Linked DNA regions of Homo sapiens. The protein of the gene in region 4 interacts with the protein of the main gene of each other region in a pairwise test. Each region holds a gene or a part of one and is shown on either strand. Other genes may lie near its edges. The genes, in order: HINFP, ARPC3, IK, EFTUD2, TTC27, GSK3B and CYFIP1.

Region 1 (3,500 bases), on a different chromosome or scaffold from region 4:
GAGATTGAGACCATCCTGGCCAACATGGTGAAACCCCATCTCTACTAAAAGTACAAAAATTAGTTGGGCGTGGTGGCGCGCGCCTGTAGTCCCAGCTACAAGAGGCTGAGGCAGGAGAATTGCTTGAACCTGGGAGGCAAAGGCTGCAGTGAGCCGAGATCGAACCATTGCACTCCAACCTGGCAACAGAGCAAGACTCCGTCTCAAAAAAAAAAAAAAAAATTGGAAGGTGGGAGTGGGGTTGGACTTGGTGGCACAAGCCAATAGTCCCAGCTACTTAGGAGGCTAAGGTAGGAGGATTGCTCGAGGCCAGGAGTTTGAGATCAGTGGGCAACATAAGCAAGATCCTGTCTCTAAAAAAAATTTTTTTAAAAATTGGCGTGTGGTGGTGGTACATGCCTGCAGTCCTAACTACTCGGGAGGTTGAGGCAGGAGGATCCCTTGAGTGTTGAAGGCTGCAGTGAGCTATGATCATGACACTGGACTCCAACCTGGGTGACAAGATGAAGCCCTGTCTCTAAAAAGTAAGATGTATTTCTGACTGGTTGCAGTAAAAGAAAAAAAAAATTGGGAATACTAGAAGAGTAAAAAAAAAAAAAAAAAAAACACAACAACAAAACACAGGTTGCCAACAACTTGTACAGAATGATTAAAAAAAAGCACATTCATCTGTATTTAAATATATGTAAACACAGGCAGAGAGATGTCAAAAACAATGTTCACTAAAGTACTGTCAGCAATTACTTCTTGATGGCAGGATGGCAGATTTATTCCTTATATCCTTGTTGACTGAGTTTTCTATAAATGAGTTTACAATGTTTTTATATACAACAAAAACACAATTAGGAAAATAAACCACCATTCTCTTAGGCCGCCTTCTCCCTCTAAGGAAAAGAAAGTCAGATTTTCCACCTTTCCTTGAGCTCCTCCCCTTCCTGTGTCCTGCTCTCTTACCAAGTGGGTCATCCTCCTCTTCCTCTTCCTCCTCCTCCCCAGAGCCATGCAGGTGCTGCTGCAGGTGCTGAGTGACATGCTCAAAGAACTTTTCCATGGTTGAGCACACAAAGGAGCAGGACCCCCACTCACACTGTAGCCACAGATTCTCCTTTCGGGGAACTTTCCCAGGAGGCGGCATGGCCTTCACCCTAGAGGAAGAGGAAGAAATCCACAGCTGCAAGAATTCCACCCAGGTGCTGCTGAGGGCAAAAAGCTGGGCAGGCAGCCTGCCTAGAATCAGCACGTGTTGTTCCAGTGACCCATGAGAAACCCTGCCCTTTTACAGTAAGGATGGAGTAATTCCTTAAATCCCTGGAAGATGTCTGGTGTTTGTGGAAAGGGAAAACAAAAACTAACACTATTGAGTGTGTGCCAGGCACTGAGCTAAACGCTTTAACAGACATTTTCTCATGAAGCTTCAGAGCAACCCACCAAGAAGGAATTATTCCTCTGTGAGGCAGAACAATGCTCAGGTTCAAACAGATGGCTTTTGAGAAGGATCAGGGTTCAAATCCTGGCTCCACTGTCTACCATCTACTAGCTGTATGACCTTTGTCAAGAACTTAACTTCTGAATACTCTCATCTGCAAAATGAAGATAATAAATCTTTTTGTTTTTAATTTCACACTTACTATATGTCAAGCACCACAGTAAGCATTTTATTTGCATTATGTCATTTAATTACCAACACCACCCTTTGCCGTAGGTGCTTTTTTTTTTTTTTTTTTTGAGATTGAGTTTCGCTCATCTCCCAGGCTGGAGTGCAATGGCTCGATTTTGGCTCACTGCAACCTCCGCCTCCCGGGTTCAAGCGATTCTCCTGCCTCAGCCTCTTGAGTAGCTGGGATTACAGGCGCCCGCCACCACGCCTGGCTAATTTTTATATTTTTCGTAGAGACAGGGTTTCTTCCCCATGTTGGTCAGGCTGGTCTCAAACTCCTGCCCTCAGGTGATCCACCCACCTTGGCTTCCCAAAGTGCTGGGATCATAGGTGTGAGCCACCACGCCCAGCTGGTAGGTGCTATTTTTAACCTCATTTATAGATAAACACCTGAAGTTCCAGAGGTCAACTGACTTGCTCACGGCCACACACTAGTGGTAATGGTAGGGTCATGTTGGGCTGACTCTAGTCCATATACGGTTCTACTCCATAGAGCCTACAGATGAGCCTAGAAGCTCCTTATTTCTTATTGAATCATAAGTCCCCTGCCAGACTTTCACAGTGCCATACAATCTGCCTTTACCTAACCTATCCAACGGTTTACTCCACCACTCTGCTAATACCTTCTGTTAAAATGTAGATTCCATTTGAACATAAAAAGCCGTATCTGTGTAGTTTATACTGCACCTTGGGTGTCTATACACTGCTAGGCATGCTTAGGCATGTAATAAATATTTTTTTTCTTGAGACAGAGTCTCACCCTGTCACCCAGGCTGGAGTACAGTGGCACAATCACAGCTCACTGAAGCTTCGACCTCCCCAGGCTCAGGAGATCCTCCTACCTCAGCCTCCCAAGTAACTGGGACCACAGGCATGCGCCACCACATCTGTCTAATTTTTGTTTTGTTTTGTTTTTGTAGTGACAGGGTTTTGCCATGTTGCCCAGGCTGGTCTCGAATTCTTGGACTCAAGCAACCCATCTGCCTCAGACTCCCAAAGTGTTGGAGTTACAGGCATGAGCCACTGCACCCAGTCTGTAATAAATATTTATTGAAGAAAGATAAACATGAAACTGAAGGTTCTCGGCTGTGCGCACTGGTGCACACCTCTAATCCCAGCACTCTGGGAGGCCAAGACAGGTGGATCATCTGAAGTCAGGAGTTCAAGACCAGCCTGGCCAACATGGTGAAACCCTGTCTCTACTAAAAATACAAAAATTAGCCAGGCGTGGTGGCACAAGCCTGTAATCCCAGCTACTCGGGAGGCTGAGGCAGGAGAATCGCTTGAACTTGGAAGGCAGAAGCTGCAATGAGCCGAGATCGTGCCACTGTACTCCAGCCTGGGCAACAGAGTAAGACTCTGTCTCAAAAAAAAAAAAAAAAAAAAACACACACACACACACAAACAAAAAACTAAAGGTTCTCAATTTTATTTCATTTTATTTTTATTTTTTGAGACAGAGTCTCGCTGTTACCCAGGCTGGAATGCAGTGGCGCAATCTCAGCTCACTGCAACCTCCACCTGCCGGGTTCAAGAGATTCTCCTGCCTCAGCCTCCTGAGTAGCTGGGATTACAGGTGTGTCACCACGCCTGGCTAATTTTTGTATTTTTGCTAGAGACAGAGTTTCACCATGATGGCCAGGCTGGTCTCGAACTCCTGTCCTCAGGTGATCCACCCGCCTCAGCCTCCCAGAGTGCTGGGATTATAGATGTGAGCCACCATGCCCAGGTAGCTCTCAATTTTAGATCTGCACACGAATGTAGTTATCCAGCGCCTGCGTGAGAAGTTCGGATTCAGGAAGGCAGGAGTTAAGCCTAGAAATCTGCCCTTTTAACTCAGCAC
Region 2 (3,500 bases), on a different chromosome or scaffold from region 4:
ATAAAAAGCCAGACATCTTGTAAAAAGCAGAACTAAGAATCAGCATACAAAATGCTCTCATAAATGTGATTTTTTTTATCCCTTCCTTTAACACACACCTACCCACTGAAGGGAATATATATCTTCTCATTTTACAAATTTGGAAACAAGCTAAGAGAAGAAGAATGATGTCTTGGTCAAAAGCATAACGCCATGAAGTGGCAGAGCTGAAAAGATAGTGCTTGGGTCTTGGTTTAGCTGGGGGCTGGGTACCCTGATTTATATGATGTTTGTCTTTCTGTAGTGGAAATACTTTGGCCAGATACCAATGTGATGTCACCGAACATAGAATTGGAAGAGATGCACAGCAGCACCCCATTATTTAGTATTTCGTAATAATAACCTTAAGAACATAGACAATAGTAAAATGTAATTTTTAAAAATTAGGTTATTGCCGGGTGCAGTGGCTCACGCCTGTAATCCCAGCACTTTGGGAGGCCGGGGCGGGTGGATCATGGGGTCAGGAGTTCGAGACCAGCCTGACCAACATGGTGAAACCCTGTCTCTACTAAAAATACAAAAATTAGCTGGGCGTGGTGGCACGCACCTGTAATCCCAGCTACTTGGGAGGCTGGGGCAGGAGAATCGCTTGAACCCAGGAGGCGGAGGTTGCAGTGAGCAGAGATCGCGCCACCGCACTCCATCCTGGGCGACAGGGCAAGACTCCGTCTCAAAAAAAAAAAAAAATTAGGAAGTAGGCCAAGTGCAGTGCAGTGGCTCACATCTGTAATCCCAGCACTTTGGGAGGGCAAGGCGGGCAGATCACCTGAGGTCGGGAGTTCGAGACCAGCCTGGCGAAAATGGAGAAACATCGTCTCTACCAAAAATACAAAATTAGCTGGGCGTGGTGGCTTATCCCTATAATCCCAGCTACTCAGGAGGCTGAGGCAGGAGAATCACTTGAACCCGGGAGGCGGAGGTTGCAGTGGGCCAAGGTCATGTCATTGCACTCCAGCCTGGGCAACAAGAGCCAAACTCTGTCTCAAAAAAAAAAAAAAAAATTAGGAAGTAGCCAGGTGTGGTGGCTCACACCTGTAGTCCCAGCCCTTTGGGAGGCTGAGGCAGGAGGAACACTTGAGCTTAGGAGTTTGAGATCATCTTAGGCAACATGGTGAGACTCCTTCTCAAAAAAAAAAAAAGAAGTGATGAATACTTAAGCATCATTGTTTTTAACATTATTTACTTTTTTTTTTTTTTTGAGACAGTCTTGCTCTGTTGCCCAGGCTGGAGTGCAGTGGCACGATCTCGGCTCACTGCAGCCTTCGCCTCCTGGGTTCAAGTGATTCTCCAGCTTAGCCTCCCACATGGCTGGGACTACAGGCGCACGCCGCCACGCCTGGCTAATTTTTTATATTTTAGTAGAGATGGGGTTTCACTGTGTTGCCCAGGCTGGTTGCAAACTCCTGAGCTCAGGCAATCTGCCTGCCTCAGCCTCCCAAAGTGCTGGGATTACAGGCATGAGCCACCACGTCCAGCCAACATCATTTACTTAATTGTAAGTTTATATAATTTGATTTTTGAGAAGAGCTGTGTTTAACAACCAGCTTGAAAAATGCCTCAAAATTTAACAATTGGTTTTCTTGAGCCAGAAAGAACCAGCCCTCGCACCTCAATGCTGCTATCCCTTCTCCCTCCCCTAATTAATCTTGGGTGGTTTACTCTTTTTTTCCTTTAAGGGAAGGTTGTTTGCCACAGTGACATTTGCTCTTTTTCTGCTTCTGTGTTCTTCCTGGGCTTGCCATTACAGGCTTACCACTCTTCTCTCATGGATCCTGATACCAAACTCATCGGAAACATGGCACTGTTGCCTATCAGAAGTCAATTCAAAGGACCTGCCCCCAGAGAGAGTAAGTCTAAACCCATTATTTTCAAATTTTGGTACGAAATGCCTAACAATCTTCTGAAATGATCAAATCAGAAAAATTCTTAGCTCAGTCTTCTCTCTCAAATTGCCCTTGTACTTTGCTTGGTAGATACTGTGGTCTAGACCTTTCAAGATAGTGGTTATATGTTGCATTTAATAGGAAATTGTATTATTTCTTCTGACTTCTCCAGGAAACTCTTTTGAGAAAATGGAGGAAATGTGCTTAATTCTGGACACTGTTTATCAGTTCTTTCAAACAAATCTAATGCTGTTACGTCTAGAATGCCACATGCCCATCCTTTCTGTCATCAACCTGGAAAAGAACAACAACAAATATTTTAACCTCTTCCTCGTCTAAATCTACTTCCTTTATTCATTCTTCAAGATCTTCATTTTTAGCAATACCTCAATCTTAAATCTGAAGTGTACTATGTAACATTACTTACGTCTATTCCCGCTTTTCTGAATTTTATTTCAGAAAGCCGCAATATTTTTCAGACACTGTCTGAGACTCTTCTGATGCTTTCTGAGATGTTCTCCCAACAGTATAATTTGTATTATGTTAGACATGGTTTCCCTGTACCCTGCAAGGGTCTGAACTGAATTCCATTCATGGTTTCCAAGACCATTATTATAATTACCAATTTGGTACTTATCCAGTCCCCATTTCTCTGCCAGACTGTTTGACTTGACCTTTTTTAAACTTAATTTTGTTTTCAACACCATTTGAAAGCTCAGTAAACTTAATGCATATGGTGAGTCACCACAGTCTCTACTTGATTCTGAGGAAAAGGAACAAGGAAGAAGACAGCCTGGGAAAGAAGAAAAATAACATAAAAGAAAATCACAAGGCTGGGTGCGGTGGCTCACACTTGTAATCCCAGCACTTTGGAAGGCCAAGGCAAGTGGATCACTTAAGGTCAGGAGTTCGAGACCAGCCTGGCAAACATGGCGAAACCCCAACTCTACTAAAAATACAAAAATTAGCTAGGCATGGTGGTGGGCACCTGTGATCCCAGCTACTCAGGAGGCTGAGACAGGAGAATCGCTTGAACACAGAGGGTGGAGGTTGCAGTGAGCCAAGATTGCACCACTGCACTCCAGCCTGGGTGACAGAGTGAGACTTCATCTCAAAAAAAAAAAAAAATTTTTTTTCACTGCAAAGGCCAGGCGTGATGGCTCACACCTATAATCCCAGCACTTTGAGAGGTCGAGGTGGGTGGATCACCTGAGTTCAGGAGTTCAAGACCAGCGTAACCAACATGGAGAAACCCCATCTCAACTAAAAATACAAACAATCAGCCGGGCATGGTGGCGCATGCCTGTAATCCCAACTACTTGGGAGACTGAGGCAGGAGAATTGCTTGAACCTGGGAGGTGGAGGTTGCAGTGTGCCGAGATCATGTCATTGCACTCCAGCCTAGGCAACGAGCAAAACTCTGTTTCAAAAGAAAAAAAAAAAAAACCTGAATTGGAATGGAGGCCTGTGCTGTGAGCTAAATAACAGCATTAATCACACTAATTCATTTATATTCAACAAATATCTGTAGAATGCCTTTTATGTGCCAAGTATTCTTCTAATTTCAGAATCCTTTGG
Region 3 (3,500 bases), on a different chromosome or scaffold from region 4:
TCAGCCTCCCAAAGTGCGGCGATTATAGGTGTGAGCCACTGCACCCGGCCAGACTGATTATTTTCAAGGCTATAACTGAATTAAATTTACAGGCCTTCTTATATACATATGTCAGTAATGGACCAGGCTAAATATAAATAAATGGAGTTGCTGGCTCATAGGATATATATACTTAAATTTTAACAAATACTGCAAAATTGCCCTTCAAATTGGTTATACTGGTTTACATTCTCATCAGCATTATATGAGAGAGTCCCCTTCCCAAATTCTCACTCACACTTGATTTATCAAACTTTCTGGTAGTTAACACTCTGATGCATTAAAAGTGGCATGGCATATCTGGTCGGGCGTGGTGGCTTACACCTATAATCCCAGCACTTTGGGAGGCTGAGGTGGGCAGATCACCTGAGGTCAGAAGTTTGGGACCAGCCTGGCCAACACCTCTAATAAAAATACAAAAATTAGCTGGGTGTGTTGGCGGGCACCTGTATTCCCAGCTACTTGTGAGGCTGAGGCAGGAGAATTACTTGAACCCAGGAGGCAGAGGTTGCAGTGGGCTGAGATCATGCCACTGCACTCCAGCCGGGGCAACAGAGGGAGACTCTGTCTTAAAAAAAAAAAAAAAAAGCTGGGTGCGGTGGCTCATCCCTATAATCCCAGCACTTTGGGAGGCCGAGGTGGGTGGATCACAAGGTCAGGAGTTCAAGACCAGCCTGGCCAATATGGGTGACAGTGAGACTCCGTCTCAAAAAAAAAAAAACAGTGTCATATCTTTGTTTTAATTTGTATTTCCCTGATTTCTGTTAATTTAATCATGATTTTTACTTGTTCCTTTTTCATTTCTTATTGAGTCCTAATATTTAAAATCTTTGCCTTTTCTTCTAGATCAAAACTCACCAATGAAGACTTCAGGAAACTTCTCATGACCCCCAGGGCTGCACCTACCTCTGCACCACCTTCTAAGTCACGTCACCATGAGTAAGTCTTTGGGTGATCCAACCTGTCTCCCAACTTGTTTCTTGCTCCTTCCTATTTCTTTCTACTAAGTAGAATGACTTTTAATAGTCCCTCAGGTATTTATGATACTCTCTAAAGTTTGAGAACTGCCCACCTACAAATATTGGTGTGGATTTCTGCTTGATTGAAAGTGTTACTTTGATCAGTATTCTAGGTCTTTCTAAAAATCCTCAAGGAGACTTCTTGGGGTTTCTGGGGCTGTGGCAATATTTTGCTATCAGTGAATTTCTCGTCTCTTCTAGGATGCCAAGGGAGTACAATGAGGATGAAGACCCAGCTGCACGAAGGAGGAAAAAGAAAAGGTGAAGGAAGGGTGAAGGGTTTTAGATTTTAAGGTGGATAGTGTTTAGGGGAAAGAAGTAGGGGCTAATTATGAAGCTAGAAACTAAGATTTTGTCTTGAGGCTCTCTACTTTCTTAATGAAACAGAGTGATACTTAGAGTGGCAGTAGAGGGCTTTGGAATAGGCCTATCTATATTTTAATCTCATCTTCGCTAGTTTCTTGGTGGATAACCTAGACATTTGCTTAGCCTCTCTAATCCACAGATAGAATGGAGATACAGTAGCAATAATAACTTTTATCAGGATGTCATGAGGATCAGCTGTGAAAGTACATGTAGGCATTTAGCACCAATGCCTGGCATATGGTAACCACCCAATAAATCTTGACGGCCATCATCATTATTATATCATCATCGTTATTTATATGATACGAAAGTTTCAGGACCTGGTACTTGGCTTTTCCTTTATTCTGAGAGTGGACCAGCAAATAATACGTTCTTTTCAGCTGAAATTTAGAAGGTGGTAAAAATTCAGAAGATTTTCTGATTTTTGTGTGGAAAAGTCTTATATCTATAGAGAATTGGTAGAGTTGGGTGGTATTAAAAAGTTCTGAAGTGACAGATGGAGTGTCCCAAGTTGGCACTGGAAAAGTATATCTATAAGCTGGAAGAAGTTGTAGTTCTGATTTTGAGTAACTACGAAGAGGTGGCCAGCAGTTCTATCAGGACAGACATGAGCTTTTCCCCATAGAGAGTAGGTTGGAGATGTAGGGAAGCAAGCAGGAACAGTTCTGTTGACCTTGAGGTAGCAGCTGATGAGCCTTATACATTTGCCTTTCTCTGGTCACAGTTATTATGCCAAGCTACGCCAACAAGAAATTGAGAGAGAGAGAGAGCTAGCAGAGAAGTACCGGGATCGTGCCAAGGAACGGAGAGATGGAGTGAACAAAGATTATGAAGAAACCGAGCTTATCAGCACCACAGCTAACTATAGGGCTGTTGGCCCCACTGCTGAGGCGTGAGTACTGAGGGAACAGGGCATGGTTCCCTCAGCATCCGAGAGTCATGCAAATACAATGTGAACTCTTCCTCTTACTTTCCTGCCCTGGAGCCTACAATAAGCGATTTCAGAGGCATTTGCCACCCACAAAGGGCTGTTCTTTTTTTTTTTTTTTTTTGAGATGGAGTCTCGCTCTGTCACCCAGGCTGGACTGCAGTGGCACGATCTTGGCTCATGGCAAGCTCCGCCTCCCAGGTTCATGCCATTCTCCTGCCTCAGCCTCCCGAGTAGCTGGGACTACAGGCGCCCGCCACCACGCCCGGCTAATTTTTTGTATTTTTAGTAGAGACAGGGTTTCACCGTGTTAGCCAGGCTGGTCTCGATCTGACCTCATGATCCACCCGCCTCGGCCTGCTGAAGTGCTGGGATTACAGGCGTGAGCCACCGCACCTGGCCCCCCAACCCCCTTTCCCCCACCCCCTTTTTTTTTTTTTGGAGACAGAGTCTTGCTCTTGTTGCCCAGGCTGGAGTGCAGTAGCGCGATCTCAGCTCACTGCAGCCTCCGCCTCCCATGTTCAGGCGATTCTCTTGCCTCAGCCTCCCGAGTAGCTGGGACTACAGGCGCCCACCACCATGCCCAGCTAATTTTTGTATTTTTAGTAGAGATGGGGTTTCACCATATCCACCAGGCTGGTCTCAAACTCCTGACCTTGTGATCTGTCCGCCTTGACCTCCCAGAGTACTGGGATTACAGGCGTGATCCACCACGCCTGGACAGTACTGTTCTTATGTGGCCTCTTTCATTATACAGGGACAAATCAGCTGCAGAGAAGAGAAGACAGTTGATCCAGGAGTCCAAATTCTTGGGTGGTGACATGGAACACACCCATTTGGTGAAAGGCTTGGATTTTGCTCTGCTTCAAAAGGTGAGTCCTGGTGGTCAGGTGGGGAGTAATACTGTCGTGCTGAATGCTCTTGTATGGGTCTGGCAAGATGAGGAGGGAGATTCCTGAGAGTTCAGACTGAGTAGAAGAAGGGCTAAAGATGGCCCCTCTGAAAAGCTGATTGCTACTCATCCTTCAAGTATCAGGCCAAATTTTATTTCCTTGGAGAAACCTTCCCTGATCACCCAGGTGTGGTTAAGCACTTCCCTTCACCTCCTGCTTCCTGTACCTTTGCATAGCCCTTCTGTTTCATTTACC
Region 4 (3,500 bases):
TGTCTCAAAAAAAAAAAAAAAAAAAGGAAAAAGAAAATAAAGGCTCCCAAGCCAAAGTTATTCTTGGTCCTTTGTTAGGGAAATAATTGCACAATTAAACAATTAACCCATGGGTGGTGATTAGGTCTCAGAGTGGGTGGTTTCAAGGAGAGGGTGGGGACTGTCTCTCCCAGATTCTTTGTCAAGCCTTGATGTAGCCCCTCAAACCATGTGTTGCTTGGCCTCCTTGTCCTAGTTGAGTCGTATTTTCTCCAAGGCCCTGTGGAGGACCCTCAATACCCCTCTTAGACTCCTCTACTGATGTATCTAGGAAGGAGGAAGGATTGGTGTCATAGAAAACACTGGGTTTCCTGGGCAGCAGACCATGTTGGGGCTTCAGGGCAGAGCTTCACTCAGATGCTGTGGGTTGAGAATGACATGGGTGCACGCCAGTGGGTCTCAGCACCAGCTCTGTCAGACCCATGGGGGTTGTTCAGTGAATGGTGGTAGATGGCTGAATGGATGCTGAGAGCTACCTTTGAAGACTAGAATTAAGGCCCTAGTTTGATACCCCACTTACTCTTGGCTCAGGAATCTAATTTCTTTACTACAGTAAGTTTTCTTGGGCTTTTTGGTGATGATTTGGACAGCTCTTTTAACCTGCTGTTGTACTTATCACTTGTGCTGATTAAGGCAGTTGGGGTTTTCACAGAGGTAGTGTCAAGGGAGCTTCTGAATTCCCTTAGGTAAATGGTTGCCCTTCCAACAAAATTAGACCTCGCTTCAGTAATTTATTTTCTGTTTCCCAGGTGGCTGACCCAGTTGTCACGTTTTGTGAGACGGTGGTGGAAACATCCTCCCTCAAGTGCTTTGCTGAAACGCCTAATAAGAAGTAAGCTGGGAGCACAGTGTCCCTGGGACTGCAGCCTCCTGGACACTCTCTCTCCTTTATCTTCCACCTCTACCCCCACCATGAGCACTATGCACATAGAGACCTCTACAGCTCAGAATAGGGGGTGCTTACAATACTTGAGTTTCACTCCAGCCCTCTCAGCCCTTCTGCCTTTGAACACAATGACATGGGATTATTCGCCTTGGGTATTCCCAAGAGGAGTTTCATAACTGCCACTTTGTCTCTATAAAATGACTATCTTAAAAGTTTACTCCAAATCTTACTCACTTTTTGTTTTTTTGTTTTTTTTTTTTTTGACACAGGCTGGAGTGCAGCCTCAACTTTCTGGGCTTAAGCAATCCTCCCAAGCAGCTAGGACTATGGGCACACACCAGGCCATCTGTTAATTTTTTTATTTTTTGTTGTCCAGACTGGTCTTGGACTTTTGGGCTCAAGTGTTCCTCCCATCTTGGCCTCCCAAATTGTTGGGATTACAGGTGTGAGCCACCATGCCCAGCTTAAACCTTACTTTTTTTTTCTTTTTTTTAAGACAGTCTCGCTCTGTCGCCCAGGCTGGAGTACAGTGGCACGATCTCGCCTCACTGTAGCCCCTGCCTCCCAGGTTCAAGCAATTCTTGTGCCTCAGCTTCCCCAGTAGCAGGGATTACATGCACGCACCACCACACCTGGCTAATTTTTTGTATTTTTAGTAGAGGTGGGGTTTCGCCATGTTGCCCAGGCTGGTCTCGAACCCCTGACCTCAGGCAGTCCGCCCGCCTCGGCCTCCCAAAATGCTGGGATTACAGGCATGAGCCACCACGCCCAGCTTAAACCTTACTTTCATAAAGACCAGTAGATTGAAATGAAAGAAAGATGAGCCCTTTGCCCTTTTTGCTCCACCTTGCCCCTGATACTGTGGCTTTTTTTTTTTTTTTTTTTTTTTTGAGACAGGGTCTCACTTCGTCACCCAGGCTGGAGTACAGTGGTGCCACCATGGGTCACTGCAGCCTCAACCTTCCGAGCTCAAGCGATCCTCCTACCTTAGTTAGCCTCCCAAGTAGCTGGGACTACAGGTGTGCTAACCACACCTGGGTTTGTTTTTCTTTTTTTTTTTTTCTTTTGAGACATAGAGTCTCACTCTGTAGCCCAGGCTGGAGTGCAGTGGCTCGATCTCAGCTCACTGGAACCTCTGCCTCCCGGGTCCAAGCAATTCCCCTGCCTCAGCCTCCCGAGTAGCTAGGACTACAGGGAGTGAGTGTCACCACACCCAGCTAATTTTTGTATTTTTAGTAGAGATGGGGTTTCACTGTGTTGGCCAGGCTGGTCTCGAACTCCTGATCTCATGATCTGCCTGCCTCAGCCTCCCAAAGTGTTGGGATTACAGGCATGAGCCATCGCACCCGGCTGGCTAATTTTTTATAGAGATGGGGTCTCTTGCTTTGTTGCCCAGGTTCTGTTTGTTTGTTTGTTTGTTTGTCTGGGGTTTTTTTTTGTTCTGTTTTGTTTTTGAGACAGAGTCTTGCACGGTCGCCAGGCTGGAGTGCAGTGGCACAATCTCGGCTCACTGCAACCTCCGCCTTCTGGGTTCAAGTGATTCCCCTGCCTCAACCTGAGTAGTTGTGATTACAGGCATGTGCCAGCGCACGCCACCACGCCCAGCTAATTTTTTGTATTTTAGTAGAGATGGGGTTTCACCATGTTGGCCAGGGTAGGCTCGATCTTCTGACCTTGTGATCCGCCCACCTCGGCCTCCCAAAATGCCGGGATTACAGGGGTGAGCCACCGCGCCTGGCTGTTTGTTTTTAAGAGGCAGTATGTTGCTGTATCACCCAGACTGGAGTGCAGTGGTGTGAGCCATAGCTCACTGCAGCCTCAAATTCCTGGGTTTCAGTGATCCTCCTGCCTTGGCCTCTCAAAGTGCTGGGATTACAGGTCTGAACCACCACGCTTGGCCCCTGTGGCTTTCACTGATGTCACTTCCTCAGCTGTCCGTCTTGTTACCCTTTTCTTAGTAATGCCTCTTCTGCTGTTCTGTTAGCCGTCCTTACCACCCATTTCCATTCTGACCAGGAACAAGATCACCATGATTGCTGAGCCTCTTGAGAAGGGCCTGGCAGAGGACATAGAGAATGAGGTGGTCCAGATTACGTGGAACAGGTGAGAACAGGGCTCTGACGCCAGGGTCGAAAGGAGGCAGGGATGCCACAGTTTAACTGCCGGGTCTCTAAGAGCACACATCTTTCTGGGGAGCATTTATGTCTTTGCCTTTGCTCTTGTTCTGGGCACAGTGGGTAGGATGAAGTGACTGTCTTCCAGGAAGGGAGGGTCTGTGGCTCCAGGACCAGCAATCACAGAGCTGGCTGACAGCTCCATTGTCTCCTCCCTTCCCCAGGAAGAAGCTGGGAGAGTTCTTCCAGACCAAGTACGATTGGGATCTGCTGGCTGCCCGTTCCATCTGGGCTTTTGGCCCTGATGCGACTGGCCCCAACATTCTGGTGGATGATACTCTGCCCTCTGAGGTACAGCAGAACTGATGGGAACTGGGTGGCGGTCTCTTACCTCTGGAGTGGAAGAAACTACAAAGTGTTCTTTTCCCAAAAGTATCTTGTGTCCTCTGGTGAAGGACAGT
Region 5 (3,500 bases), on a different chromosome or scaffold from region 4:
TCTTTGTAATCTGACCTTGTCCAGAGAGTGGATGTTGGAACTTTTGCTTTTCTTAAAGTGGTTTGAAAACAGCTATTCTGCAGTAAGTTATTTCAGAGACATAATGAAAAAATTTTGGTCTTACATGAAGTCAGATAGTGTAATAAACTGTTGATATAGAACCAAAAGATCCTGGCTTTAAGCTCTGGTTCTGATGCTGAGAAGCCCTGTGATCATGAACAAATGACTGTATTCTTTAGAACTTTTGTTTCTGTCATCTGTGAAAAAGAGATAATAATAGTTCTTCTACCTACAACACTCAATGTGTTACTTTTTTTTTTTTTTTTTAAAGGGTGGTAGTTTGATGCAAAAATTAGTATGTGGACTGTAGTGGCAGAAATCCTGGGTTTGAGTCCTGGTACCAGAGCTTGTTGGCTTTCTAATTTTATAAGTCATTTAAAACCTGAGGCTGGGCCTCAGGACTTTCTTATGTGAAATGGAGAAAATACCTTGTAAACTCTAAAGCACTCTGAAAATATTACTCTTCATGACTGTACAGTAGATCTCATGGGTAAGTCAGTAGATATAATTTTATTGTTTTTTCAGGTGCTTTGGGAAAAAGAACACGGTTCCAGGAAAATTATGTGGCACAACTGATTCTAGATGTAAGAAGGGAAGGGGATGTCCTTTCAAATTGTGAATTCACTCCAGCACCCACTCCTCAGGAACATTTAACCAAGGCAAGTAGGACATTAAGTTATTAAATTCAATTAACACCTGAGTCTAAGAATTTCAATAGCTGAGTACCATAGAAACACTGAATGGGTTGGGGACAGACTTCATTTTATTCTTTCTTTTGCCTTTTAAAGGTTGCTGAGTCAGGGAGAACTGGTGTTTAACTGGTGTTTTTTTTTCCTAACCTGTGATAGAAAAAACTGGTGTTTTTTTTTTCCTAACCTGTATATAGAGATAAATACTGTTTTTCTTCTAGGATTCAATAACTATGAATTAATGATGCAGTTAGTTATGTATTACCCCTCTTGAAGAAATACGAAAGGCAGACTGGGTGTAGACCAGTTTCTCTATCTGCTATCATATTTGTTTCCTTATGTTTGTCTTCTCTTGGAATCTCTTAGGCTTTTTCTAAATATATAAACATTATCAGAATTCCTTTTCACTAGTTTTGTGATCGGCCTTTTGTTTCTCTGTCATTATTGGGGGGGTGGTTGCCTTAGTATGTTTATTTGACATGTCTAGTGAATTCTCTTCTTTAGTTTGAATTATGACTCTTGGTCAGTTTACCTAATTATAGTCCACTCCAGCTGCTTCCATGAAGCCGTTTAGTATTTATGCATGTGTTTTCTGATCCCAGAAACCCCCAACTACTTTTTTTTTTTTTTTTTTTTGAGATGGAGTCTCACTCTATTGCCCAGGCTGGAGTGTAGTGGCGTAATCTCGGCTCAATGCATCCTCCGCCTCCTGGGTTTAAGCGATTCTCCTGCCTCAGCCTCCCGAGTAGCTGGGATTACAGGCATGCACCACCACGCCCGGCTAATTTTGTATTTTTGGTAGAGACAGGGTTTCTCCATGTTGGTCAGGCTGGTCTCGAACTCGCAACCTCAGGTGATCCACCCGTCTCGGCCTCCCAAAGTGCTGGGATTACAGGCGTGAGCCACCACACCTGGCTGTGTTTGTTGTTTTTTAATGTGGAGTTGTTCTATAGAAAAGTATCTCCCAGTGATTGACCTGGCATGGTGGCTCATGCCTGTAATCCCAGCACTTTGGGAGGCTGAAGTGGGTGGATCACTTGAGGTCAGGAGTTCGAGCCCAGTCTGACCAAAATGGTGAAACCCTGTCTCTATTAAAAATACAAAATTAGGCCAGGTGCAGTGGCTCACGCCTGTAATCCCAGCACTTTGGGAGGCCAAGGTGGGTGCACGAGGTCAGGAGATTGAGACCATCCTGGCTAACATGGTGAAACCCCGTCTCTATTAAAAATACAAAAAAAAAAAATTAACCGGGCGTGGTGGCGGGTGCCTGTAGTCCCAGCTACTCAGGAGGCTGAGGCAGGAGAATGGCGTGAATCTGGGAGACGGAGCTTGCAGTGAGCCGAGATCATGCCACTGCACTCCAGCCTGGGTGACAGAGCAAGACTCCGTCTCAAAAAAAAGAAAATAAACAAAAAAACAAAATTAGCCAGTTGTGGTGGTGTGTGCCTGTAATCCCAGCTACTTGGGAGGTTGAGGCAGGAGAATTGCTTGAACCCAGGAGGTGGAGGCTACAATGAGCAATGAGTGCAATTGCATCATTGAACTCCAGCCTGGGCAACAAGAGCAAAACTCCCTTTGAAAAAAAAAAAAAAGAAAAGAAAATTATCTCCTGGTGATAAATAGGATATGATGAGTATTATGAGAAATGTATGAAAATGATGTACCATTTAATACAGAATTTTAATCGTTTTTTTGCTTGTTCTTTCTTTTCTTTTCTCCTTTTCTTCTTTCTTCCCTTCCTCCCTCCCTCCCTCCCTCCCTCCCTTCCTTCCTTCCTTCCTTCCTTCCTTCCTTCCATTTTTAAATGGAGATGAGTTCTCACTATATTGCCCAGGTTTGTTTCAAACTCCTGGGCTCAAGCAATCTTCTTGCCTCAACCTCCCAAAGTGCTGGGATTCACCATGTAATACATGTTACAGGGTTAATGTGGTTAACATTTTTAATATATTACATGTGGCTATCAGAAATTTTTTCAGAATTATTTTATTTTAAAAATTTTGGCTGGGCGTGGTGGCTCACGCCTGTAATCCCAGCACTTTGGGAGGCCGAGGTGGACGGATCATGAGGTCAGGAGATGGAGACCATCCTGGCTAACACAGTGAAACCCCGTCTCTACTAAAAATACAAAGAATTAGCTGGGAGTGGTGGCAGGCGCCTGTAGTCCCAGCTACTCCGGAGTCTGTGGCAGGAGAATGGCGTGAACCCGGGAGGCGGAGCTTGCAGTGAGCTGAGATCGTGCCACTGCACTCCAGGCTGGGCGACAGAGTGAGACTCCATCTCAAAAAAAAAAATAAATCAATAAATAAAAAATAAATTTTACCTGTTTATCTATTTAGAGACCAGGTTATGAGACTGGCTAATTTTTGTATTTTTGGTAGAGATGGGGTTTCACCGTGTTGCCCAGGCTGGTCTCGAACTTCTGGGCTCAAGCCATCCACTTTCCTCAGCCTCCCAAAACTGTTGGGATTATAGGCATGAGCCACTGCACCGGCCAGAATTTAATCTTTTGTATGTGAAATAAAATACATTCAGATAATCTTATGGTCTTTGTTAATTACTACTTGAAGATGGAGAGTACAAGTTGTATGCTGTAGGTATGGATTAGATAGAAACATAGCTTTATTCTAATGGGTGGAAGAGAATTGTTAAGTTGGTTATATATCATATTACCTTGTGTTAAACACATTATTAGATTGTAATATACACCATCTGTTTAATAACCATTTTTCAGGAAAAGGAAAGGAACACTAC
Region 6 (3,500 bases), on a different chromosome or scaffold from region 4:
GCAATGCCCCACCCTGCTTCGGCTCGCCCTCCATGGGCTGCACCTGCTGTCCAACCAGTCCCAGTGAGATGAACCAGGTACCTAAGTTGGAAATGCAGAAATCACCTGTGTTCTGCAAAGATCTTCCTGGGAGTTGTAGACCAGAACTGTTCCTATTCAGCCATCTTGGAAGCGACCATGAATGCCATCTTACAAATGAAAGTGTTAATTGGTCACAGACATTCACTGGCTTTTGTGTATATTAATACTTCTGTGAATTTAAATGGATATAAATATTGGTTATAATATTCCACTAGTGCATTTGGATATTCATTTATCTAGCAATTTATATTTCACAGAGAAAAATACTCATAAATATTATATTACTTTTCTTTTATTAGGTTAATTGGAATTCAGTTAGTATTTTAGAAAGGAAATTGTAATGGAAGAATAACAGGAAAAAATAAAAGTCCAATAAGTGAGCCTAAGGACTTATATTGTACTGAGAATTGGTTTTAGATTTGTCAGGGAAGAGAGAAGAAACAGTAGACATTTTTGTGTACGTTGAAGTCACTAAAAGAACAATGTAAAGCTCTTTTAGATCAGATACTAGGTAGCATAATACACAGAATCGATTAAGAATTCAGAAAACAAGATGGTGACTGTGGACTATCCCTAGTGAAGTAGGAGGTGGCTCTTGTGCCTGAATTGAAGAGAGCCGTTGGATTGCTACTGGGGTGAGAGAAGGCAAAAAAGGAAAGAAGAGGTCTGTGAGTGAATAGAGACCCTGGAGCCAGTGATATGCTTATATAATTGGGCCTCAGTTCAGAATGGGTTGGATTATTTAAATTTTTATATCTGTTAACCCCAAATTAACATTCTTTTCTCCACCTGAGCTTTCTCTGAGAGGTCTTCTACTTTGCTAAAAAGAAGATTCAGGGAAGCAAACACTCAAAGCCTTACTTTCCTAAATGCAGAAGGATCTGAAGAGAGAAGTTTTAAACATTTTTATTTGCACATATTTTATTTTCAAGTAAAATAAGGTCTTGAAGAAAGCCCTAAGGCCTTTTAGAATTGGATGGATAAGGTCAGACTCTTATGGGTTCACCTTTTGCTATTTGACCATGGGCAAATTTAACATTCTTCCTATTACCTATAATATGGGAACAGTACTGTCTACCTCATGGGGTTGAAACTAAGCATTGTGTCTGGTCTATAGAATGACTGAATACATGGGAGTTTAAAAAATGACTTATAATTGAAACAAGTAATTGAAGTAATTACATGTAATAAACTAAAAATAATTTGTAGTAAAGAATATAGTTTACTTTGACCAGGCGTGGTGGCTGATGCCTGTAATCCCAGCACTTTGGAGGCCAAGGAGGGCGGATCACCTGAGGTCAGGAGTTCAAGACCAGCCTGGCCAACATGGTGAAACCGCGTCTCTGCTAGAAATACAAAAATTAGCCAGACGTGGTGGCAGGTGCCTGTAATCCTAGCTACTCGGGAGGCTGAGGCAGGAGAATTGATTGAACCCGGCAGACGGAGGTTGCAGTGAGCCGAGATTGTGTGACTGCACAACAGCCTGGGTGACAAGAGTGAGACTCCATCTCAAAAAAAAAAATAAAATAAAAAATAAAGAATATAGTTTACCTTGTATATTTTGGCAGTTTTCTCTATTTAATTCCTTACAGTTCTCGTGAAAAAAAAATTTCCTTTCTTCCTTTAGGAGACAAGGACGGCAGCAAGGTGACAACAGTGGTGGCAACTCCTGGGCAGGGTCCAGACAGGCCACAAGAAGTCAGCTATACAGACACTAAAGTGATTGGAAATGGATCATTTGGTGTGGTATATCAAGCCAAACTTTGTGATTCAGGAGAACTGGTCGCCATCAAGAAAGTATTGCAGGACAAGAGATTTAAGGTAAAATGTCCAGTATTTCATATATTTTGTTGCTGTCGTAATACATATACCATAAATGATTATTTTTTTAGTTGCTTCTTTTTGCTTCAAATTTCTTCTATTGTGCGCATTTTTGTTCAGCTCAACCATTGTAGTGATTTTATTTCTAGTCATGTATTTTGTAGAGATAACATTCACTGAAGATTGCAGTATTACTTTTGTAGTCATTACAAATGACATATGTAATATATGTATTTTTTAATCCTGTGAAAGGTAAGTTAAAATTTCTTAATTTATACTATAAAAAGTGACCTGTCCTCACCGTTGTACTGTGTTGATGTAGACCAGAGGAACACTGCCTGTAGCATATAAGCATTTTATGTATTTGACTATGCTTCCTTTTTTCAAAAAATTTTTTTAATCCATGTTGCAACTTGTGTTAGTCTGTTTTTGCATCTCTATAAAGGAATACCTGATATTGAGTAATTTATAAAGAAAAGAGGTTTAATTGGCTCACAATTCTGCAAACTGTACAGGAAGTGTGGTGCAGACATCTGCTTCTAGTAATTGTCTCAGGAAACTTCTAATCATGGGCAGAAGGTGAAGGGCGAGTAGGTGCATCACATGGCAAGAGCTGAGCGAGAGCATGAAGGGGGAGATCCAGACTTTATTATTATTATTATTGTTATTACTATTTTGTAGAAACGGGGTTTTGCCATGTTGTCCAAGCTAGTCTCAATCTCCTGAGCTCAGGCAAGTCGCCTGTCTCAGCCTCCCAAAGTGCTGGGATTACAGGCGTGAGCCACCATGCCCGTCCCCAGACTCTCTTAAATAACCAGATCTCCTGTGAACTAACTGAGTGGGAACTCACTCATCAACAAGGGGATGGTGCTAACCCCATTCATGAGTGGTTGACCCCCTTGATCCAATACCTCCCACCAGGCTCTACCCCGTCTCTACTAAAAATACAAAAAATTAGCCGGGTATGGTGGCGGGCGCTTGTAGTCCCAGCTACTTGGGAGGCTGAAGTAGGAGAATGGCGTGAACCCGGGAGGCAGAGCTTGTAGTGAGCCGAGATCGCGCCACTGCACTCCAGCTTGGGGGACAGAGTGAGACTCTGTCTCAAAAAAAAAAAAAAAAAAAAAAAAGGAGATTACATTTCAACATGAGGTTTGGAAAGGGATAAACATCCAAACCATATTACAACACTATCCATTTTTCTCGTAACTTTTTTTTTTTTTTTTTGCTATCTTCCCTTTTTTTTCTTGTCCTTCTGCCTTTAGACACTAGCAATCCCAAAATTCAGTTCTCGTCATGTATTTTCATTTTCTGTACCTCATTAGGGGAGCCTATGCATGGAAGCTCAGATGTCATCTCTATGTTGTGGTATAGCAGAGAGAGTCAGAAGACACCGGGTGTAATTAAGCCTCTGTCACTATGCAGCGTTGCTCCCTTTACTACTCTTCCAACCTCTGCAACATTTTAGTGGGAGCCTCCAATGTACCAAGATCTATGGTAAACATGAAGGGATATAACAAGAAGAAGTGATCACTGTTCTGGTATAACACTAGTTATACCACATTCTAGTGTCCATCTGCTGTAAATATCTGGAACATTCT
Region 7 (3,500 bases), on a different chromosome or scaffold from region 4:
GCCCACGCCTGTAATCCCAGCATTTTGGGAGGCCAAAGTGGGCGGATCACCTAGGGTCAGGAGTTCGAGACCAGCCTGGCCAACATGGTGAAACCCTGTCTCTACAAAAAAAAAAAAATACAAAAATTAACCAGGCATGGTGGTGCGCACACCTGTAATCCCAGCTACTCAGGAGGCTGAGGCAAGAGAATTGCTTGAACCCGGGAGGCAGAGGTTGCAGTGAGCTGAGATCGTGCCACTGCACTCCAGCCTGGGGGACAGAGCAAGACTCGTCTCAAAAAAAAAAAAAAATACTGTGATGAACGTCTCACTAAATAAAGGCTAGATTTAAGAGCATCTATTTGATTTTTTCCAAAGGAAACGATGTTAAAGAGTGGAAAGCAAAAGCAGTTTTACAGCAGTGATGACAGTCCTCTTCCCATGGACTCTCTACCTAGATTTTAAGTGCTGTGGGCGTGCTCCTAACTTTTCCTCCTGCACACCCGGGGCTGGCAGCCCTGCCTCTAGTCCTCTCTGGGACCGGGAGGCCCTGTGAGCCAGTGAGGAGGCCATGGGGATCCTGTGTGTGCTCACACCGGGCAGGGCGTCTGCCCTGAGCCCTTCCTCTGTGTTCCTAACTGCAGGTCTCATGGCCAGCAGGTTGTTGAGGGCTGGGTGGAGCCAAGGTGTAACGCCTGTGGCACCCCTCAGAGATGCCTGCGTGTCACTGACACCCCTCTCGCCTGCAGAAGCCATGGGGTGTTTTGGGTGGTCATTGTGGCCCCCAGCGCCGCACCTCAGTGTCACTAGCTTCTGGCAGCCGTCTCTTGGCACACAGGCCACAGTGCTTAGGATAGTTTGTGGCGCTTTGTCTGGATTTTAGCAACTGGCATCTGCTTTTCATGCTAGTTCCCCCGCCTGCCTTTGATTTGCCCTGTGTTCCATTGCAGAACGAGATGCTGGAGGAGGGCCAAGAATATGCTGTCATGCTGTACACCTGGAGGAGCTGCTCCCGGGCCATCCCACAGGTGCCACGCTCGCCTGGCTCTTCCCCTCCAGCCACACCCTGCCAGGCCCCTGCCACACCACACCCCTGCCCCTGCCATGCCTGGCCCACTCTCCTCCCAGTTCTCACCCCACAGCAGGGCGGGATCACTAGCTCTAGAAGCCCAGCGGCTGCTTCTGGCTGGATCAAAGCCTCTTATGTCATCCTTGTTCCTTTATTCCCAGGTGAAATGTAACGAGCAGCCTAACAGAGTGGAAATCTACGAGAAAACCGTGGAGGTTCTGGAGCCTGAGGTCACAAAACTGATGAATTTCATGTACTTCCAGGTAAAATGGCAAATAATCTGGGGGGGGTGTAACACCGAGGGGTGGGTTGCTGACCCCTTCCTACCCATCACTGTCACTGTGAACACCCTGAACAGAGTGCCTGCAAATTAAAGCAACCAGTTTCTGAGACAAAAGGGACCAAGCCTTTGACAGTCTAAAGTTCCTCATGCCCTTTCGGAATCAACGCTCCTTTTGTGGTTCACTTCTCTTCTCTGAGAGTGATTTTATGTTTCCTTCATGGAGCCTGCTTTCTGTCAGTTTCAAGTACAATGCTTTGACTTTTTGCCAGTTTGTACTTTTTTTTTTTTTTTTTTTTTTTGAGACAGAGTCTTGCTTTGTCGCCCTGGCTAGAGTGCAATGGCATGATCTCGGCTCACTGCAACCTCTGCCTCCCAGGTTCAAGCGATTCTCCTGCCTCAGCTTCCTGAGTAGCTGGGATTACAGGTGCCCGCCACCACGCCCAGCTAATTTTTGTATTTTTAGTGGAGACAGGGTTTCACCATGTTGGCCAAGCTGGTTTTGAACTCCTGACCTCAGATGATCTGCCCATCTTGGCCTCCCAAAATGCTGAGATTACAGGTGTGAGCCACCACGCCTGGCCAATTTGTACTTTTGTTTTCGTCTGCTCTTTCAGGTATTTTCTTGCTGTTAGCCTCACCCTGACTGTCCATTCCTGGTGGTCCTCGCCCTGGCCTTGGTTAGGCAAGAAGTAGCCACATGGAAGGGGCTTGCTGCTTTTTAAAGAAGTATTTTGGAAACATCCAGATTTTTTATGATGATGTCCTTCAGCAAAGGGAGGAGATGGAACTAACTGGGAGATGAATTTTTGTTTTACCTTGAAAGTTACCAAGAGGAAAAAAATCTCTCCCAGTTTTCACTTCTGAAAGTTAGAACATCTGAATTTTACAGGCGTTTTATTGGAGCATTTTGCTCAGTAATTTTGCTGGAATAATCAGCAAGATTTTGTTACTTTAGTGATGTAGTTGGTAAAGTGCAAGTCAAGTAATGATGGTGCAGAGCAGGCAGTGGGAGCTGCTTTCAGGAAGGGGTCTGGTTGCCCACATTGTAAACACTTCGGCCTGGAGCCTCACTGGGCAGATCGTTTCTCATCGAGGAGCAGTGACTGCAGGTGCTTGAAGGAGGGACATGGGCTTGGCTCCTCACTGACCTGCAGCTTTCTGCCCTCCTGCTTCCTCTGCACAGAGAAATGCCATTGAGCGTTTCTGCGGGGAAGTGAGGCGCCTGTGCCATGCCGAGAGGAGGAAGGACTTCGTGTCAGAAGCCTACCTGATCACACTGGGCAAATTCATCAACATGTTCGCTGTGCTGGACGAGCTGAAGAACATGAAGTGCAGTGTGAAGAACGACCACTCAGCGTACAAGAGGTGAGCACCCACCTCGCGCACTGCGGGCCCTCCCGAGAGCACCCAGCTCAGTGGCCTGCCTTGTGCACAGCAGGTGTGCGTCTTTGTTTGCTGAAGTCGTCACTTCTGGTAGGCAGCAGCTACGTCTCAGTGTCAGGGCTGTGTGAGCACCTGCTTCGAGGGATAAGGTGAGGGGAGCCAGCAGATAAGTGCATATCGTGGCTTTGCACAGCTAGAGCAGGCTCTTCGTGCCCTGGCTGTCCTCAGATGTCACAGAGGACCTTCGAGCCCCTGGGAAGACAGACATGCACAAGATGTAGGCCTAGCTCACAGAGCACAGGCATCTGGCTCAGGGAGCATCTTGGCAAGGGGGCAGGTGGCCTCTGCAGCCTACCTTGGGCGTTGGGGCTGCAGTCCTCGGTGCCGGTCACTCGCCAGCGGGGGTCCCCAGCACATGAGCACCATCCCAGCAATGTGCAGACGTGGCCCGTGCACAGTCACAGGGTGTCTCGTGGTCACACTGCGCTTCCAGATCCTCTCCCTGGTGGTTTTCTTTCTGGATGTAGAGAGCTTCTGGAGAAGCTAGCCTCTGGAGAGGCTGGCAAGACGAGCGGAAGAGGCAGGCATGGCCCAGTGTGTGCTTCTGGAGCAGTGTGGGGCAGTGGGTGGCCGATGGGCATTTGGTGACACTCGGCGCGCTGCCGACCGGCGTTCGGTGACACTTGGCACGCTGCCGACCGGCGTTTGGTGACACTTGGCACGCTGTCTCCTGATGCTCTTGCTCTGCTTCATCTGTGCTCAGTGCTTTTGAAGACATGTTTTGCT

The links.
Region 1: the proteins of EFTUD2 (region 4) and HINFP interact in a two-hybrid assay, tested with the Homo sapiens proteins (one large-scale study listed by BioGRID).
Region 2: the proteins of EFTUD2 (region 4) and ARPC3 interact in a two-hybrid assay, tested with the Homo sapiens proteins (one large-scale study listed by BioGRID).
Region 3: the proteins of EFTUD2 (region 4) and IK interact in binary tests that used the Homo sapiens proteins (3 or more experiments, as listed by UniProt).
Region 5: the proteins of EFTUD2 (region 4) and TTC27 interact in a protein complementation assay, tested with the Homo sapiens proteins (one study listed by BioGRID).
Region 6: the proteins of EFTUD2 (region 4) and GSK3B interact in a two-hybrid assay, tested with the Homo sapiens proteins (one large-scale study listed by BioGRID and IntAct).
Region 7: the proteins of EFTUD2 (region 4) and CYFIP1 interact in a two-hybrid assay, tested with the Homo sapiens proteins (one large-scale study listed by BioGRID and IntAct).

What each region holds. Positions count from the first base shown.
Region 1 is NC_000011.10:119,124,580-119,128,079, reverse strand, and holds part of HINFP (histone H4 transcription factor), read right to left. Parts: intron 2,801-3,500; exon of another isoform or gene 2,313-2,800; coding exon of another isoform or gene 2,281-2,312; intron 1,146-2,280; coding exon of another isoform or gene 1,136-1,145; coding exon 955-1,135; intron 1-954. UniProt on the Homo sapiens protein: Transcriptional repressor that binds to the consensus sequence 5'-CGGACGTT-3' and to the RB1 promoter. Transcriptional activator that promotes histone H4 gene transcription at the G1/S phase transition in conjunction with NPAT.
Region 2 is NC_000012.12:110,443,838-110,447,337, reverse strand, and holds part of ARPC3 (actin-related protein 2/3 complex subunit 3), read left to right. Parts: intron 1-1,786; coding exon 1,787-1,886; intron 1,887-3,500. UniProt on the Homo sapiens protein: Component of the Arp2/3 complex, a multiprotein complex that mediates actin polymerization upon stimulation by nucleation-promoting factor (NPF).
Region 3 is NC_000005.10:140,650,829-140,654,328, forward strand, and holds part of IK (protein Red), read left to right. Parts: intron 1-885; coding exon 886-978; intron 979-1,259; coding exon 1,260-1,319; intron 1,320-2,148; coding exon 2,149-2,316; intron 2,317-3,109; coding exon 3,110-3,224; intron 3,225-3,500. UniProt on the Homo sapiens protein: Involved in pre-mRNA splicing as a component of the spliceosome. Auxiliary spliceosomal protein that regulates selection of alternative splice sites in a small set of target pre-mRNA species. Required for normal mitotic cell cycle progression.
Region 4 is NC_000017.11:44,854,446-44,857,945, reverse strand, and holds part of EFTUD2 (116 kDa U5 small nuclear ribonucleoprotein component), read left to right. Parts: intron 1-788; coding exon 789-871; intron 872-2,941; coding exon 2,942-3,028; intron 3,029-3,263; coding exon 3,264-3,390; intron 3,391-3,500. UniProt on the Homo sapiens protein: Required for pre-mRNA splicing as component of the spliceosome, including pre-catalytic, catalytic and post-catalytic spliceosomal complexes. Component of the U5 snRNP and the U4/U6-U5 tri-snRNP complex, a building block of the spliceosome.
Region 5 is NC_000002.12:32,666,050-32,669,549, forward strand, and holds part of TTC27 (tetratricopeptide repeat protein 27), read left to right. Parts: intron 1-585; coding exon 586-719; intron 720-3,500.
Region 6 is NC_000003.12:120,000,448-120,003,947, reverse strand, and holds part of GSK3B (glycogen synthase kinase-3 beta), read left to right. Parts: intron 1-1,708; coding exon 1,709-1,902; intron 1,903-3,500. UniProt on the Homo sapiens protein: Constitutively active protein kinase that acts as a negative regulator in the hormonal control of glucose homeostasis, Wnt signaling and regulation of transcription factors and microtubules, by phosphorylating and inactivating glycogen synthase (GYS1 or GYS2), EIF2B, CTNNB1/beta-catenin, APC, AXIN1, DPYSL2/CRMP2, JUN, NFATC1/NFATC, MAPT/TAU and MACF1.
Region 7 is NC_000015.10:22,942,369-22,945,868, reverse strand, and holds part of CYFIP1 (cytoplasmic FMR1-interacting protein 1), read left to right. Parts: intron 1-929; coding exon 930-1,007; intron 1,008-1,209; coding exon 1,210-1,311; intron 1,312-2,514; coding exon 2,515-2,696; intron 2,697-3,500. UniProt on the Homo sapiens protein: Component of the CYFIP1-EIF4E-FMR1 complex which binds to the mRNA cap and mediates translational repression. In the CYFIP1-EIF4E-FMR1 complex this subunit is an adapter between EIF4E and FMR1.